Linked DNA regions of Homo sapiens: region 2 is linked to region 1. The links come from fine-mapping of genetic effects on gene expression. Tissue or cell type: esophagus muscle. Region 1 holds a variant in brackets; the other region holds the start of a gene. All regions are shown on one strand. Distances are from middle to middle.

Region 1 (10,683 bases):
AATGTTAGTACTATTGTTATTTTTAGCATTATTTTTGTCTGTCTGCCTCATCCTAAAGATTGTAACCATGAGTAGCTTTGACATGCTTCAAAACTTCTTTTGTTCTTCCAGGGAGCTTTTGGAGAGGGTCCCACTTCATGATGTCCGTATGAAACAAGGTCATGGAGAATCCTTTGAATTTACTTCCACAAATATTTCTTTGAGTACCTATTTTGTGCCAGGTGCCACAACATGTATAAAGATGAATAAGGAAGAAAAGAGAAGGATCATTTGTCGAGATTCTGGTCTGCTATGCAATGTGCTGATGCCATTCTGGGGACTTGGAAGCATTCATCTCATTCCATTCCCATAACTACCTCCCAAAGCATCTTTATCACAGTTACAGCTGAGGAAACTGAGGCTTGGGGAGGTTACCTGACTTGCCCAGTCATTCATCTAGTAGTTACTGGTGCTAGGATCTGAATCATGTCTGTCTGACTCAAAGCCCATGTTTCAATTCTCCTGACATGAGACCAATTGAGAAGTATGGTTCACAAGCTGGGGAGGGTGTCTTGGGAAATTTTGAGGCGGGGCACTTCCTAGCCCAGCGTGTGAAAGCAGGCCAGTTACTAACCTGTCTTAGCCTCAGCAGCCCAGTCAACAGAGGCCAATACCTACCTTGCAAGGTTGTTGTGAGGATTAAAGATAATGGGTAAAGCATCCAGCACACAGTATGTGGTCTATGAAGAATAGCTATGTTATTCAGAGCTACGTAAAAAATTACCATTTCTCAAAGAGGCAGGAGCTATTTTCTGATACAGTGAATTCTTGGAACTTGCAACGGGTGTGTATTATGAAATTTAGGATCTAAGCTAGCAAGACTTTGCTATACGGCTTTGAGAAGGTATATGGTTGTCGCAAAAATCTCAGGAGACTCTGCAAGATAAGAAAATCTCAAAGCAGAGGCAAGTTCAGAGACTTGCTTTCCTACTCCTGAATCTTCATTCAGCTGAGCTAATGGCCAGGAATGACAAGAGGACTCACCATTGTTTGAGCCTGCCTGTGAATTTGCATAAAATGTGATTTAAAACAAAAACATAACCAAGGATCTGGCCCCCAGGAATAGTCAAGGTATCTGCAGTGAGTAGAAGACTATTATTTATACTGCCTGGAATCCCACCACAAATCTTTACAGAAACGCACAAACTCACATTGGATCAGGCTTTTGTTGGTCTCCAGGGAATGCTGACTTTGTTTATTAATGCCACAACAAACGTGTCTCTGAATAAGGGAACTGACAGGACACCCGTCTCTGCATTGAAACCTGATTAAAAGCAAGTCCAGCCCCTTCTAGTCTCTCAGGAGTCTTCACAGTTTCTAAGCTGTCCTTTGTGAGTCAGTGATGTCGATGGCAGGAAAACTCCATCCTTGTTTCTTTGGGTGATAATCCACACATCACAGCATGAATACTCAAGCTCTCACACGAAGCAATGGTCTGCCTCCCAAATAGAAAGAAGGAGAGTTGCCTAAGTGGAAGGACTTGATAGGAGCTGAAAATGCAGCCCCATGACACCCAGTCCTCCTCTAATAAAGGTTTTTCCCTATCTCCTGTCACTGATGCTGCAAATTCTACTCTGGAGGCAGAGTGGCATCGGCAGGCAGCACTTCCTGAACCTTTCCATGAAAGGGACCCTTAAACACAGGGGAACTGTGGGGATAGTTGCACATTATGAATATACTGAAAACTACTGAATTGTATACCTTAACGTGCTGAAGTTATATTATATTAATTATATGTTAATAATGATAATAAATTTTTTAAAAATACATAGAGGAAATAGCCTATGTCCTTGCAAGGCCAGCAGGACCAGGACTCAAGTGGACAGCTCTAAGTATGAAGTATTGTGCATGTTGCATTCTGCTTCAAAATACATCTATATCTGTTGTAACTGTTTAAAGATAAAGTTATTTCCCAGTTAAAATGCTTAATTTTATCCCCTCAGATATTCAAATAAAATTGATACCCCAGGTGGACGTGCCTTAGATGGAGAACCCTGTGGCAGCACCACTCACTTGTGGCTTGAGAAACACAAAGGGGAGGTGGGCTTACCAGGGTGAGATCCCAAGGTGTGGATCCCAGAGTACGAATCCCACGATGTGCATCCTAGGGTATGGGTGCCTAAAATGGTGCTGAAGGTCTGACTTAGGGTGACTCTCACTCACATTTTTCACAGAATAAGTTCAGAACTCTGGGCTATCAAAAGCCCATTGTCACATGTGTGGACCCATGCATCCACTCTCACCCTTCCATGTTCTGTTCACAGTGCTGCCTCAGGTCTATGACATCCAATGGCAGCAGGCATCGTTCACCTTGTGCGTGCCCAACTCTGACTCCCAGGGCAGTCTCCCCACACCTCACGGGCTTCATGCCACATATGAAGCAGGCCTCTGGGGGTGGTCTCAGCCATAGCCTCCGAGAGCCTTCGAGACTGTTGCTCTGCAACACCAGTGGTCCCTTCCAACCAATGTCCTTTCTTGCCTCCAGCTGACATGGTGACATCATGCTCTCCAGCTTCAGTTTTAAGCCATGGTGGAAAATGTTTGGGCATGCCTTGCACAATGGACATATCTTGCTCTTCTCACTCCATCCACAGGCCTTTTGCCTAGCCGGCCTGCAGATGGCTGTGTGTGGAAGGCAGGGGTATGTCAACATTGAAAGAAATCACATTCTAGGAATGTGGGGGTTAAGGCCTAAAAAGTCAAAGAGAAGACATGATTGGTAGATGTGTCATGCTACATTTACATTATGAAATTTCAAATGGCAAATTTAACAAGACCAGAACATTATCATTCAGATTCTCTGCATACTCTGGGTAGGATTTGTATTTGGTCTCAACAACAAAGCACAGCAACAAGATTAGAGGGAGTTGCTGGAAGCCAACATCCACAGGAGGCTGACATGTGACTCAACATCGCAAGTAAGCAATGATGTCACCAGCATGACATGTGAAGCCCAAATGCACCTAGATCTACTAATCTGGGGGTCCTAGGTAAGGTGACGTTCCCTGCCGAAGGGCCCAGAGTGCCCCACATAGCAACAGAGCTGTCACCTGCACCCTCCGCGCTCATCCTCCCTGTGCTCTGTGATCTACTGCCCCCTGCAGACCTCCCTGGACACACCTCATCCCTCTCCTCTCTCAAGTCCAGACTACCATTTTCTGGCTTCTTCCAGGCCACCCTCAAACCACCATCTACGCCCACTGCAGATCTGCAAACACCCCCTGCCTCCGTCTCCCAGAACAGGGCTGCCTTCTCCTTCTAAGACCCAGTTCTGTCGCAGAGCTGTGTGGGCCCCTAATGATATAGCAGCGAACCCCATAATTCCTGAAGGGCTTTTTCAAAAGTCATTTTGTTTCTGCTATACATTAGCCACAAAAGAACTAATTCTAAAGCAAAAAAAAAAAAAAAAAAAGACAATTATGTGAAAAACGGCTCGGAACCATGAAATAGATGCTGATTATAAATATAGGCTTCAGGCATTATGAAATGAGGCAGCTCTAAATTTTCAAAGAACAAAGAAAAAGCAAGAGGATTTTCTAAATATCAAAAAGACTTTCAGGTTATAATTAGTAAATTGACTAACCTTTTTAAAGGTACAAGTAAATTTCTAAAGCCTGCAGCATTCATGGAATTATATATGCTGTAAGTCTAGGGGACTGACTCTGCCAGCCTCCTCACTTCACAGATGAGAAAACAAAAGGTTCCATGACTTTCCCAAGGTCATAAAACAAGTTTGTGGCTGCTAGAATTTTAATTGGAGCTCCTGTCCTCCATCTTCAGTTTCTTTCACCCATTCTACAATGGAAGCTACTTTCACAAATAGGCAACAACGTTCAGATTACTTGCATAAATATATGGAGATGGTGTTTGTGGAGGTGGTGGTAGTGATGGTGGTGGTGGTAAGAGGGTGGTAATAATGGTAATAGGGGTAGTAGAGGTGGTGGTAATAGCTGTGGTGGTGGAGGTGGAAGTGGTTGTGGTGGAGGTGGTGGTAGAGGTAGTGATGGTGGTAATGGAGTGATGGTAGTGATGGTGGTAGATGTGGAGGTGTTAGTGGTAGTGGTGGAGGTGGTTGTGGTAGTGGTGGTGGTTGTGGTGGTGGTAGAGGTAGTGATGGTGATAATGGAGTGATGGTAGTGATGGTGGTAGATGTGGAGGTGGAAGTGGTTGTGGTGGAGGTGGTGGTTGTGGTGGTGGTAGAGGTGGTGATGGTGGTAATGGAGTGATGGTAGTGATGGTGGTAGATGTGGAGGTGTTAGTGGTAGTGGTGGAGGTGGTTGTGGTAGTGGTGGTGGTTGTGGTGGTGGTAGAGGTAGTGATGGTGATAATGGAGTGATGGTAGTGATGGTGGTAGATGTGGAGGTGGAAGTGGTTGTGGTGGAGGTGGTGGTTGTGGTGGTGGTAGAGGTAGTGATGGTGGTAATGGAGTGATGGTAGTGATGGTGGTAGATGTGGAGGTGTTAGTGGTAGTGGTGGAGGTGGTGGTTGTGGTGGTGGTGGTGGTAGTGAAATGATGGTAGTGATGGTGGAGGTGGAGGTGGTAGTGGAGGTGATGGTGGTGGTAGAGGTGGTGATCGTGGTAATGGAGTGATGGTAGTGATGGTGGTGGTGGAGGTGGAGGTGGTAGTGGTGGAGGTGGTGGTTGTGGTGGTGGTAGAGGTGGTGATGGTGGTAGTGGAGTGATGGTAGTGATGGTGGTGGATGTGGAGGTGGAGGAGGTAGTGGTGGTGATGATGGTGGTGGAGGTGGAGGTGGTAGTGATGATGGCAGAGATAATGAAAATTGCAGTGGGGCCAGGCACAGTGGTGCACACCTATAATCCTAGCACCTTGGGAAGCTCAGATGGGAGGATTACTTGACCCCAGGAGTTCAAGACCAGCCTGGGCAACATAGGGAGACCCCCATCTCTATAAAAAATAAAAAGTTATCTGGATCTGTGGTCCCTGCTACTCAGGAGGCTGGGGCAGGAGGAGGATCTCTTGAGCCTGGGAGGTTGAGGCTGCAGTGAGCTGTGA[T/C]TGCACTACCGCACTCTAGCCTGGGTAACAGAGCAAGACCCTGTTTCAAAAAAAAAAGGAAAGAAAAGAAAAGAAAGAAAGAAAATAAATAGTGGTGGTATGCATATGTGCTGGGAAGTTGAGGAGTGAGGAATAGTTCAAGGGCAGTTCAAGGGCATGTCAGCCAAAGCTCAGATTCAGTTAAGAGTGAATATATATAAGAAACTGGCAGAATGAGGAAAAGGATTCAGCCGGTATAGACAAATCAATTAGATGTATCCACAAACAAAATGACAGAAATGGTACAGCAGCTGAGGAAGCAACAGGGTCATAAGGACCTTTCAGTGTGGGATTGCCATGCATGCTGGATATTTCCAGGCTGCGGAAAAGCTCCTAATAGTGAGGCTCCTTGAGTGCAGGTACAGGTTGTGAAACCCATCAATATTTGTTGATTGCCTTTTCTGTGCAAGGACCTCAGCTGGGCCGTGGCAACACAAGGGTATGCAGGAAAGCAAGAGAGGCCATACCCTGTCCTGCTCCATTTTCTATCTTTAAATGTTGGGGGTTTTGTGTTTTGTTTTGTTTTTTAATCACGGGAGAGTTGCCTGGATGAATAAGACAATTCATCAAGTCCTGCCAAACCATGAGTGGTGGTGCAGGCTGGAGGAGCCCCACTTATTTCTTACAGTGAAGTTAGCCTGTCATTAAAAAGTGCCTGTGTAGCCATTCACTTTGTGGCCCACAGTGCCACCGTGTGGAAGGCACCTGTTGGCTGGACATGCACAAAATAAAACCGAAGCAGTGGCAGCTTTTAAACCAGCCCATCACCTTCACTCGGGGAACCCAAAGCACTCCCTCCATGTGACTATTATGCTCAATTTACCAAAGAAAAGGCCGTTGGATCTGTGGGTTCAATGAACCCTTAGTGATCAGCTATGTGGTCTAAGTTCTCACTGATCTCCTCTCTAAGATCCCTGATTGAGGTCAGAATCGCAGAATCAATGGGCACTTCTCTATTCTTTCATACCAATCATTTGATCCATTGCACTGATAGTTTATTGAGTACAAAATGCAGCTTCCTCTTCCACAAAAGCCTAACAATGGTCAGCTATTGCCAATGGAAGAACAATTCAGCTCATCCCATCTTTTCTGGATCAGGTCCTTATATTACCCCCGCCGCCCCCAAGCTTTACTTAAAGTCCTCTCTATCCCTTTGAAACATTTTTCTTTCTGGCTCCCTGCTTAGGTTAGCTCTTCTCGCTTGTCTTGTCATTAGGTGGAATAATACATGAAGACACTCCTGGCACAATTACTGCCTTGGAATTGGCCCAGTTCAGCTTATCAGATGATGAGTGTCTGCTATGGGCAGATGCAAGTGATATAAGCATCAGAGACACCTCCTTCCCAAAGAACTTAACACATGTTAGTGTCTCCACTGGCAGCTCTGTTTTCTGTCGACTATGCTAAACGTTGAGCCTGCATCTTTACATCCAGCAGGGAGATAGGCTTGCAACCTTTTGTAACAGACACAAGCATGAACACAGATGTAGAGAAGGCCACACAGGTGCAGGACAATTCCTTCCACATCCTTTCCACCTAAGCCTGGAGAGGACTTAGCGGACCTTCGCAGCTCCCCTCAGAAACTGGCAGTGAGGCCAAGCACGGTGGCTCACACCTGTAATCCCAGCACTTTGGGAGGCCGAGGCAGGTGGATCACCTGAAGTCAGGAGTTCGAGACCAGCCTGGCCAGCATGGTAAAACCCCATCTCTACTAAAAATACAAAAATTAACTGGGCATGGTGGCGCATGCCTGTAATCCTAGCTACTCAGGAGGCTGAGGCAGGAGAATCACTTGAACACAGGAGGCAGAAGTTGCAGTCAGCCGAGATCAGGCCACTGCACTCCAGCCTGTGCAACAGAGTGAGACTCCATCTCAAAAAAAAAAAAAAAAGAAAGAAAGAAAGAAAGAAGAAACTGGCAATGAGAGACACGGGGAAGAGAAGAAAAGTGCAGAATCACACTTGATGCTCTGTTGATTTTAGAGGTTACTTTACTTAGATTCCCTAAAAGCCTAGAATTTGGTTATAGCATGTGAGTCAGCTTATTATAAATATGTAATTCACTTTGGATTTTCTAAAGCTGAAAATGGTCTTCATCTTTATCTCAGTTACACACCACTACTAGGTTCCAGCCACAAGACCAGAGCATCTTCTACTTCCTAAATTGTGGGCTCAGGTTTTCAGGTGATAAAAACCTTTTTCAGGTTGTCACTATAAACCTATTATATATTTCCAATCAATGTTATCCCTATATGTATAAGTTCAGGACATTCTTCAGTTTACCTCAGAAAATATAGCTAATTAAATTTTCCCTTTTTATATTGAACCATGCAGTCATGGAAGGGAAGAGCTGGTATGGTCCAAAGACACAAACCAGTGCAGCAGCTCCCAAGTGCTAGGCTGTGGGCCAGAGCTGGTCCATTGCTAAATTTTCATTTGTCTAAGACAAAGTATGAGGCCAATTGTCCATTCTTGGAGAGTCTTATCTTCTTACTCTTCTGGTATTAAAGTGTCCTTTATAAAATGATGGTGATTGTTGCATACTTTATTTTATGTGCTGACTTGGCAAAATAAAAGTTAGCAACCTTGGATCAACTGCAAAACTTTTTGTTAACAGCCTATAGCACAATGCTACCTCACACTACCAGGGACTATACTCCTGCATTACAGAGAACTAGCCTAATGAGAATCCAGAACAGGAAGAATTGCGAGAAATGAGACTTTCTGCTTAGAAGTATTCAGAAGATGCCCACAACTAAGGTTCAAGACTCAACTTCAAAGAAGATTTCTAATTAGAATTCATGAAGGCACCTACCCATCAGAGCATTCCATGCGTTCATCCATATGTGGAGATTGGGATGGCCTCACAAGAATGTGATGTGATTTCAAATTTGAAAAATAGCCAATATAAAATTCTAAAAGAGAAAAATAATCAGAGTATCTGTGTCTTGCAAGATGGTAAAACATATGATAAAATTTCCATGACTAAGAATAGCTCACTGTTAGAACCAATAAATGGATTCAGCAAAGTTAAAGGATACAAAATCAACACACAAAAATCAGTTGCATTTCTATACATTAATAATGAACAATCTGAAAAAGAAATTAAGAAAACAATCCCACTTATAATAACATCAAAAAGAATAAGATAATAATACACCAAATCAAGCAAACAAAAGATTTGTACACTAAAAACTTCAAAACATTGCTGGAAAAAATTAAAGAAGACACCAATAAATGGAAACACATCATGTGATCATGGATTGAAAGACTTAGTATTGTTAAGATGTAAATACTACCCAAAATAATCTACAAATGTGATGCAATCTCTATCAAAATCCCAACATTTTTTGCAGGAATAGCAAAATCTATCCTAAAATTCATATGGAATCTCAAGGGACCCTGAATAGCCAAAACAATCTTGAAAAAGGAAAACAAAAGTGAAGGTCTCATGCTTCCTGATTTCAAAATTTATGACAAAGCTATAATAATCAAAATAGTGTAGTACTAGTATAAAGACAGACATGTAGACCCATGGAGTAGAATAGAGACCCCAGAAATAAAAATTGCATATATGGTCACATGATTTTCAACAAGGGTGTTAAGACCATTCAATGGGAAAAGGACAGTCTCTTCAACACATGGTGTTAGGAACACTTGATATCCATGTCCGGAATAGCGAAATTTGACCTCCCCCCTCCCCACCTTATAACATATACAAAATTTAACTGGATCAAAGACCTAAATATAAGACCTAAAGCTATAAAACTCTTGGAAGAAAAGATAGGGAGAAATATTCACAACATTGGATTTGGCAAGGATTTCTTGGAGATGACACCAAAACACAGGCAATAAAAGTAAAAATAGATAAACGTGACTACATAAAAATTGAAAATTCTGCATCAAAACACAAAATGAACAGAGTAAAAGGCAACCTATAAAATGAGAGAAAACCATTTGCAAATCATATCTAACCCCACAATATATAAAGCTCCTATAACTCAACAACAAAAAACCCAAATAACCCAATTTTAAAATAAGCAAAGGACTTGGATAAACATCTCTTCAAAGAAGATACACAAATGGCCAACAAGCATATAAAAAGATGCTCAACATCACAAATCATTAGGGAAATGCAAATCAAAACTGCAATGAGATATTATTTCACATCCATTAGGATGGCTGATATTTTTTTAAAAACAGAAAATAACAAGTGTCAGCAAAGATGGGGAGAAATAGGAACATTTGTGCATTGTCAGTGGGAAAATAAAATGGAAAACAGTATACAGGTTCCTGAAAAATAAAAAAATAGACTATATGATTACTATATGATCCAGTAATTCCACTCTGGGTATATATCCAAAAAAGTTAAAAATAGGATCCTGGAGAAATATTTGCACAGCTGTGTTTATAGCAGCACTGTTCACAATAGTCAAGATGTGGGAGCAACCCAAGTGTCAACAGACAAATGGATTCTTTAATGATATATATTCATACAATGGAATATTATTTAATCTTAAAAAGGAAATTGTGACACACACTGCAACATGGATAAACCTTGATGACATTATGCTAAGTGAAATAAGATAGTCACAAAAAGACAAATACTGTATGATACTACCATACATGGTACTTAGAGTAGTCAAAATCATAGAAATAGAAAGTAGAATGGTGGTTGCCTGCAACTGGGTGGGGGGAGATAGGGAATTGTTTAATGGGTATAAAGTTTCTGTTGGGGAAGACGAAAAATTCTGGAAATTGGTTGCACAAGAGTGTTCATATACTCAACACCACCGAACAATACAGTTAGAGGTGGTTAAGATGATAAATTTTATGGGTTATTTTACCACAATTAAAAATGAATTTTTAAAAACAAAACTGTGCAATACCAGAATAGTAACAGAATAGTCAGATTAATGAAATATACAGAAAGTCCAGGAATAGACTAACCACATACAATAATTTACATTTGATGAAGCAGGTATTTTTTAAGTGAAGAAAGGATGAATTGTCAAGTAATGCTGCTGAGATGACTGGCTAATTGTAAAAATAAAATAGATTCCTAACTTACTGCTAACACCCCTCAAAAAATCCGGATATATTAAATATTCAAAATTTTAAAACTTTTTAAACTAGTAAAAGAAAATATAGATGAACATGTAGAAGTCTTAGAATGGAAAAGACCTTCCTAATTATGACACCAAAAGCAGAAATTACAAAGTAAAACACTGATTAATTAGACAGCTACAACTTAAAATCTCTTTATAGCAAAGAACTCCATGAACATAATTAAAAGACAAATGATTGACTAGAAAGGAGAAAAAGTAACATATATAATAAAGGACTAATATTTTCAATATATTAAAAACTCTTAAGAGCAATAAGACACAAATTACACAATAAAAATGCAGTCTAAAAATCAAAAGTAAAATAAGGCATTCAGTAGCATAACCACAGAAAAGAACTACAAGTGACTTTATAACACAGTAATTTAACTGGACATTCCAAGTAGGATCTACCTTAAGGACAAAAACAACTCCAAAAAAGTTAATAATAAATTTTAAATTGTTTTCAGTATTCATACAATAAGC
Region 2 (7,614 bases), 40 kb before region 1:
AACAGTTTTCAACCTAATTGGTCAATCTATGCCCACCAGCAGAAACCAGTGTCACTTCTAACTGTTCCCTTCCCTCCTTTTAGAATTGGCCTTGTAACAACTCAAGGGACACACTGCCATCAACATTCCTTCACTGTAGATCATGTAACTGTTGCTTACCCTCTTATTTTAGGCTTTCTGGCTCATGCTTCACTAGAAACACTGATCACAGAACCTAAAGTAAGGTGTGCAGTGAAGGGGAGTGTTGCCTCCATTCAAATTAGAGGTAGTTCTTCCCTATTTGCTTTCTGTGTTTGCTGGGAATAATGCAGTGGGAGCAGAGGCTGGGTGCACCCAAGATAACAAAATGTCCAGACACAGAGGCTCGTTTCCTGGAGAACCTGTAAAGACCTATAAAGGTTAAAGATTGGAGTATGTATGTGGGGGGGGAGTGTGGGGGTGTGTGGGGGTGTGTGTGGGTGTGTGTGTATGTTTCAGGGCCTTGAGGTCCAGATTTTGGAGAGTGTCATTAAAATGTCTCCGGAGGGCTGGGCACAGTGGCTCACGCCTGCAATCCTGGCACTTTGGGAGGCCGAGGCAGGCAGATCATTTGAGGTCAGGAGTTCGAGGCCAGCCTGACCAACATGGTGAAACCCCATCTCTACTAAAATACAAAAATTAGCTGGGTGTGGTGGCAGGCGCCTGTAATCTCAGCTAGTCAGGAGGCTGAGGCAGGAGAATCGCTTGAACCCAGGAGGTGGAGGTTGCAGTGAGCCAAGATTGCGCCACTGCACTCCAGCCTGGGCGACAGAGTGAGACTCCCTCTCAAAATAAATAAATAAATAAATAAAAACAAAATATATCTGGAAGCCAGGCACAGTGAGTCACGCCTGTAATCCCAGCACTTTGGGAAGCCAAGATAAGCAGATCACTTGAGCTCAGGAATTCGAGCCCAGCGTAAGCAACATGGTGAAACCCTGTCTCTACTAAAAACATAAAAATTAGCCGGGTGTGGTGGTATGCATGTATAGTTCCAAATACTCTGGAGGCTGAGGCATGAGAATTGCTTGAACCCAGGAGGCAGAATTTGCAGTGACCCCGATGACAACACTGCACTCCAGTCTGGGCAACAGAGCAAGACTCCATCTCAAAAAATTTTTAAAAAGTCTCTGGATTCAGAGGCCAGACATACCTGGCCCCCATATCCGTCAACCAATTCTCTAGCAAAATTTAGTTGTATAGACAAAACATAACACCTGATGTCTTCAGCCAAGTCTCTCTACTGTGATTATACAATTCCTAATATTTTGACCAATTCTAGTGAAAACTTTTCTGCAAAATGTAGAAGATAGTGTATGAGATCTGAAAAGGCTCTGGAGTGTTCTAGTTTAGATCTCACATGTTGTGGATGAAGAACCTGTGACCTACAAGGGCTTAGGAGTTTGCCCCCAACCTGCCCAGCACACGACAAGTTAGGGGCAGCATCAGGAGCAGATCCTAAGCCTCTCCGTGACCAGGCCAAGGACTTCAGCCCAGCTAACCCTGGTCCCTCCTCTGGCCTTTGTGGGACCTCCTGTGTCAGCCACAGAGTCCTCATGTGGTTCTTGTGGCACGAGTGAAAGCATGACATGGAAATCAACGGGGTCCCTGGCTTCCTCTCATCCCAGTTCCAATGCTTATGGACCAAGAGCATAGATCTAGGATTTGGCTTCGTGTTCTCAAAAGTGGGGACAATTTTGCCTGCCCCTGCTGCTCCATATGGAAACAGAGAAAGAGCGCTGGACTGGAAGCTGAGGTGGGAGCCCCACCCCTGCCGTTTTTAGAGTATCTGTGGTTCCAGGCACTGGGACAAGTCCCTTAACTTATCTGTACTTTTCTTGACTCACCCCCAAAAAATGGGGATAATAGTGCCTGCCCTACCCATTTCTGTAAGATCAAAATGGAAAGATGTAAGTGAAAAAAGTCGTTCATGAGTTGTGAGGAGAAAATGTGAAAAGTCTGGTTTAAGACAGAGCACGGTGGGTGCTTCCCAGGGGCCATCTTAAGCGAGGTCAGCCAAAGTGGTCTGCAGTCACGTTCCCCGTGGTGGGGACACGTCAGCCTTTTCTCCAGATGGCGGCGCTCTCCGGAGGAGCCGGAGCTGGAGGGAGGCCGGTCTGGCCCGGAGCAGGGAGTCCTTCTGCTCCCTGGCACGGCTCTGCGCTGAACCCACCCGGCCTGCGGAGAGCAGACAAGTGCCTCTTGGGCCCGCTTCTCTAACAAATGTAAAAATAATGCCCTTGAACCAGGAGCGAAACTGAGCTATCTAAGGAAAACACTGTGAGCAAATACTGAGAGCCTAGGGAAACCATCTGATTAGAAGAGCTCCCCTCAGGAGCGCGTTAGCTTCACACCTTCGGCAGCAGGAGGGCGGCAGCTTCTCGCAGGCGGCAGGGCGGGCGGCCAGGATCATGTCCACCACCACATGCCAAGTGGTGGCGTTCCTCCTGTCCATCCTGGGGCTGGCCGGCTGCATCGCGGCCACCGGGATGGACATGTGGAGCACCCAGGACCTGTACGACAACCCCGTCACCTCCGTGTTCCAGTACGAAGGGCTCTGGAGGAGCTGCGTGAGGCAGAGTTCAGGCTTCACCGAATGCAGGCCCTATTTCACCATCCTGGGACTTCCAGGTAGGCACCGTGCACCCCGGGGTAGAGCCAGGTGAACCAGGTGAGCAGGGAAGGGGGCGTTTGCGTTAAGCCCCACTCCCACCTCTGGGTGAGGACCCTGGCAGCTCTGGCTCAGAATGAAAGGTGTGAATAAAAGGAGAAGCTGGCTCGTGTCTAATAGGGCAACAGTCATGCAGGAGAAAATGGGAGGGTTAATACTCAAGGCGAAGGAATCGCTAGTGAGGAGGCAGGCCTCAAGAAGAATGGGTCTATTGTAAGGGTATGTTCATGATACCTGGAATAAACTCGTGTTTCTCAAGGAGAAAATAAATTGTGTGCATTACTTGCATGTGGCTTGCTCCTGCCTGCACATACATGGGAGCAGGGAAGCAGGATGCTGAGTATTTTGTTATATCTGGAAAAGTTTATTGAGAGCTAATTTAATTTTCTTTCCATTTCAATTAAATTTTTCAAAGTTGGAGTCTCTGTGGGTGCCAAAAAGAATATTGCCATTAAATTATAAATATCCTTTTGCTGCATTTGTATTAAGAATATCTTGTATACTGTCCTAAAAATCAATGTATATCAAAATATAATTACAGAATTATAATTATATTATGTCAGAATATAAATATAATTATAAATGTGACATCCTTTCACCCCTAAAGATGAAATAAATTAAACCCCTGCTTTTAATATAGATAATTACTTCAAATATGCATCATAGCAACTTTGCATTCTGAATAATATGGGAGCTCTATTTGTATTTTTAAAATGCAAACAAGAAAATAATAGCTCTAGCTAATTAGTGGCTCTAAGGGGTGGCCAAGATGTGAGTGTGATGGAGAAAGGAGAACAATGTCTCTGAAACAAATACCTTTTATAAACAAGTAGATGGAAATAAATTTGCAAGAAATTGTGAAGAGGCTGTAGAGCCCTTGAAACTGAATTGAATTGTGAAAAGCAATTCAACTAATCCAAGTTCATTTTCAGAAAGAAATAGAAGATGGGTGTCAGAGTAGAAGAATTTGATTATTTATTCCATTTTTTGGAAGCCACTTATTGCAGGACCAACAGGATGACTGACTCCGGGGAAAGACCTGCTTAGGGAAGCAAGGGAGGTAGAACCTGGCCAAAAGAAAGAGAACCAGACTGAGGAGGGATTATGCTGTAGTGGGAGGGGAGAGGTGAGATGCAGGAAATGCCACACAGAGTGTTGAGTTGCTAGTTATGTCTAATTTTAACTATCATATAAAGAAAAAATATTGTCCTCATATTCAAAATTAAGGCATGATGTCTTATGACTTCATGTTCAATAACCTCTCCCCAGGGCCCCACTACATATTATCAATCTCTTGCTCACTGTGTATCACAGTCTCCATACATGGGGCTCCTGAATATTCCCACTCTCCTAAATGGGCAAACCCCATTGCGTCCACTGTGACTTGTCACTCCTATTCTGTCAACGGATCTTATCTCCATGACACCCTCTCAGAATAGCTCCACCTCTCCCCCTTGATGGAACAAGATTATCTTCCCTGCTTTCCTGCTAAGGTCAACCTCTCCTGCTAAGGTCAACCTCCCCAGCAGGGCTCTGAAGGCCTCATGCCACCTGTCTGGGATCATGCCCTGTTGGTCAGCCCCTCTCCTCCTTGCCTCTTTCATCTCTTCTCCTCACTTATGCATATGGCCTCCTTCCTGGGGAAATCTGTTGATCCTGATCATTGTCAAGTTCTGTCTCTCTCCTGGGTCACTGACAAACCAAATTAAAAGACTAAGTTTTTCCACTACCTCTCACCCTTAACCTTTCTCAGTCTGGTTTCTATCCTTCATCTCTATAGAATGTTTGCTTTTTTGACCATAGCAGAGGATGAAGGGGAGTATTTCAGTCACCAACTCCTAGTTCTCAGTTCTCATCTCCTTAGACATTTCAAAACCCAAACAACTTCCACGGTTCCCCATTCCCAGCTTAACTAGGTGCACACATAACAGCCTGACACCAAGCCTTCCTAACCCCTCACCTACCTTCCTTGGCAGTCTCTTACTCCCCCATCCTGTTTCTTCTGTCCTTTCAGTATACCTTGGACTTGGTCCTGGACATCCATTGCTCCTGCTCCCCTGAATTCCCCCCTCCACCACCCCAACTGTCCTCTCACAAATCTTCCTCCAAACCTCCTCAAGCCCCCAAATTGAATAAAGATTCCACAAGTCTCTGTACCAAACCCAGAGCATTCTCATAGCATTGAGCATATTCACCCCGCGTGACACTGCTCTCAAATCTGAGAAGCATTTATTGCATACCTACAAAGAGTACACAACACAAAACTGGCCTTGTCGGCACCGTAAATTCCAGCAGAGGGGACAGGCATGTGTGTGAATATCAAAGCAAAGGCAACACATGTCATGGGGCTTTGACACAAGTGTTTGGAGCCCAGGAAGAAAGTGGTTATTCAGTAGGAAGAGTCAGGAGGGGAGGAAATCAGGACAGTTTTGCTAAGGGAGTTCTGTTTGAGTCTGAACTTTAGCTTACTAACTTGGTTATTTGTACATTTGTGTCATTCAGCTTCTATGTGGTGTTTCCCTTCAGCTGGATAAGAATTATTTCCCCATTTCCCAGAAAAGCGCCTGGTAGAGTGAGTATTTAGCAAAGGATTGATAAACTAAGTTGAATTAAATAGTACGAATAGTTCATTTTAAGTGTTTATGCAAGCCATTGAACTAAAAACAGGTTAAGGTCTTCCCCAAAAAGGACAGTAAATCATTTTTGTACTATAAATTTTTTGTTATTATGGCTCCATATATAGAAAAGGACCTGGTCCTCCTCCTGCCTGGAACAGATTCATTTGTTCATCCAATCATGTATTTAACAAATATCTCTTGCATGCCTACTGTGTTGCAGAGACTAGAGTTCAGGAACTCTATTAGTCAGAGTAGTTAATGTCTGCTGCTGCAACAAACAAACCTAAACATCTCAATGGCTTGACACAACAAAAGTTTACTTCCTGCCCACATAAAGTCCACTGTGGGAAGAGCAGCCTCCTTGTAGCTACACTCTTCAAAGTTGCTGGGGCAAGAGAAGAAAGGCTTGAAGGAGGCACAACAGTTCTTAACTGCTTCAATCTGAAAGGAACACATGTCACTCACAGTGCGTTGGCCACAACTAGCCATATGGCCCCAGGAGCTGGGAGATGTAGGAGCACATAGCTATTGGGTGAGCACCTACTGTCTCTACCACAGGGAGCATTTGAGTAGTAACTTCCTGGGCTGCAACACATCAACCACACTAATTTCAGTTCTGCCAGACAGATAATTCCCTGAACATCAAATAGTCAAAACCAATGAGATTGCAAAAGAAGATATACCATTAATTTATATTTAAACAAATATGATAGAATTATATGTGTAAACTATCATCTGACACAAGATAATATATAGCGTGTAATTTCAGAGCTAGACATTTTGGTGGGGATGGCCTGGAATCAGGAAAGAGGAGGGGTTTAAGGTAAATTTCTGCAATGTAAAAATTCCCTAACATTTAATAACAGAGGAATGTAAATATGGCCATGGGGGTGGGGGCGGAAAGCACATTTTTTTCAAAAAGTAAGGAGGAAGAAAGGAACAGTGGGTGAGGGAGAGAGGGAGGGAAGGTGAGAAGGAAGAAAGTAGAGAGGAAGAGAGGGAGGAAGAGAGGTGGGAGAATTGGTGATGCTAGGTACTTTTATTCCGTGTCAGGCCAGACAAAGAGCTCTTAGAGAGAGAAGCCAGTTGCCACTCATGGAACCCTGAGATGTTTCAGACCCACGAAAGGAGAGGTCCTTGGCTCTCTGAGAAGGATTTTAGGGAAGCTGGAAGAAATGACTTTCCTCAAATCCCAGCTGGAGGACAGCAAATGTGAATGTCAGGGCCAGTAGCCATGCACTGAGGGCTCTTGGAAACTGTTGGTCACAACACCATCTATTGGTAAGCTCTGTCGGTGGTAAGATTGTGGCCAGAGGACTCTGATGTGCCCGTCTTGCATCTCCTACAAAACCCAGCATGGCACACAACAAGCATAGGGGGCTGGGGGAGGGGGAAGTCGGTGCTGCTCTGTGTCCTGTCTCCCAATTGTGCTGTGAAAAACCAAGCTGGACTGAACCACCATGGGAACTGGGGGATAGTTCCCAGCAGCCACCACAGAAGTATACCCCAGTTCTGCCTATCTGAGTTGAGGGAAGAGGATTTCACCAAAAGCCAGAAAAAAACACTTCTTGGGATTGAGTTTGCAGAAAAGGAGGTACTTGAAATCACTGAAAATCTGTGGCCTTCAAGAAGACTGTGGACTTAAAAGCAGACAGTCCTCATGCAGCAGGAGTGGCTACACTACAAATTGGCACCCCAAAATACAAATATCTATTTGATGACTTAGATAAGGAATGGGCAGGAGCTGGGAGTGGTGACTTACCCCTGTAATCCCATCACTTTGGGAGGCTGAGGTGGGAGGATTGCTTGAGGCCAGGAGTTCAAGACCAGCCTGGGCAACAAAATGAGATCCCATCTCTACAGTAACAAAATTTTTTAAAACTAGCTGGGCACAGTGGTGTATGCCAGTAATCCCAGCTACTCAGGAGGCTGTGGCAGGAAAATCACTGGAGCTGGAGTTAGAAGCTGCAGTGAACTGTGATCATGCCACTGCACTCCATCCTGGGCAACAAAGTGAAACTCCATCCATCTCTAAAAATAAAATATTTTTAAAAAAATATTTAAAGAGTGTAAGAATGGGCAGGAAGATTACCAGGAGGAAAAGGCTTGAAAGAAACTCAAAAGCTAAAGGCAACAATGCAAGGAGATAAAACAGCCCGAGATGACACCTGTGGGGCTCCTAAAGGAGCTGGAAGGAGTAACAACGAGCCAGGACCTAATGCCTAACTTCTCATCAGAAACAGCTGTGTAAAGTATTTTCTTGTGCTTAACGAGGAAACTGGGGAAGAGAGACCTGAAGCAGAGGAG

The links. PIP is the estimated chance that this variant, and not a neighbour inherited with it, causes the effect. A credible set is the group of variants that fine-mapping cannot tell apart.
Region 2: it holds the start of CLDN18, and the variant in region 1 is the best candidate, but not a certain one, in a credible set for the expression of CLDN18 in esophagus muscle (GTEx, PIP 0.51).

What each region holds. Positions count from the first base shown.
Region 1 is chr3:138,046,599-138,057,281 of GRCh38, forward strand. It overlaps LOC105374128 (a long non-coding RNA gene), which reads right to left and starts at 9,162. Exons shown (of 2, transcript XR_001740930.2): 1 at 7,908-9,162; 2 at 1-2,730. RefSeq lists an enhancer at 425-1,078. The variant T/C (reference allele first, on the strand shown) is at 5,055.
Region 2 is chr3:138,007,797-138,015,410 of GRCh38, forward strand. It overlaps CLDN18 (claudin 18), which reads left to right and starts at 2,369. Exons shown (of 5, transcript NM_016369.4): 1 at 2,369-2,649. The coding sequence starts at 2,430.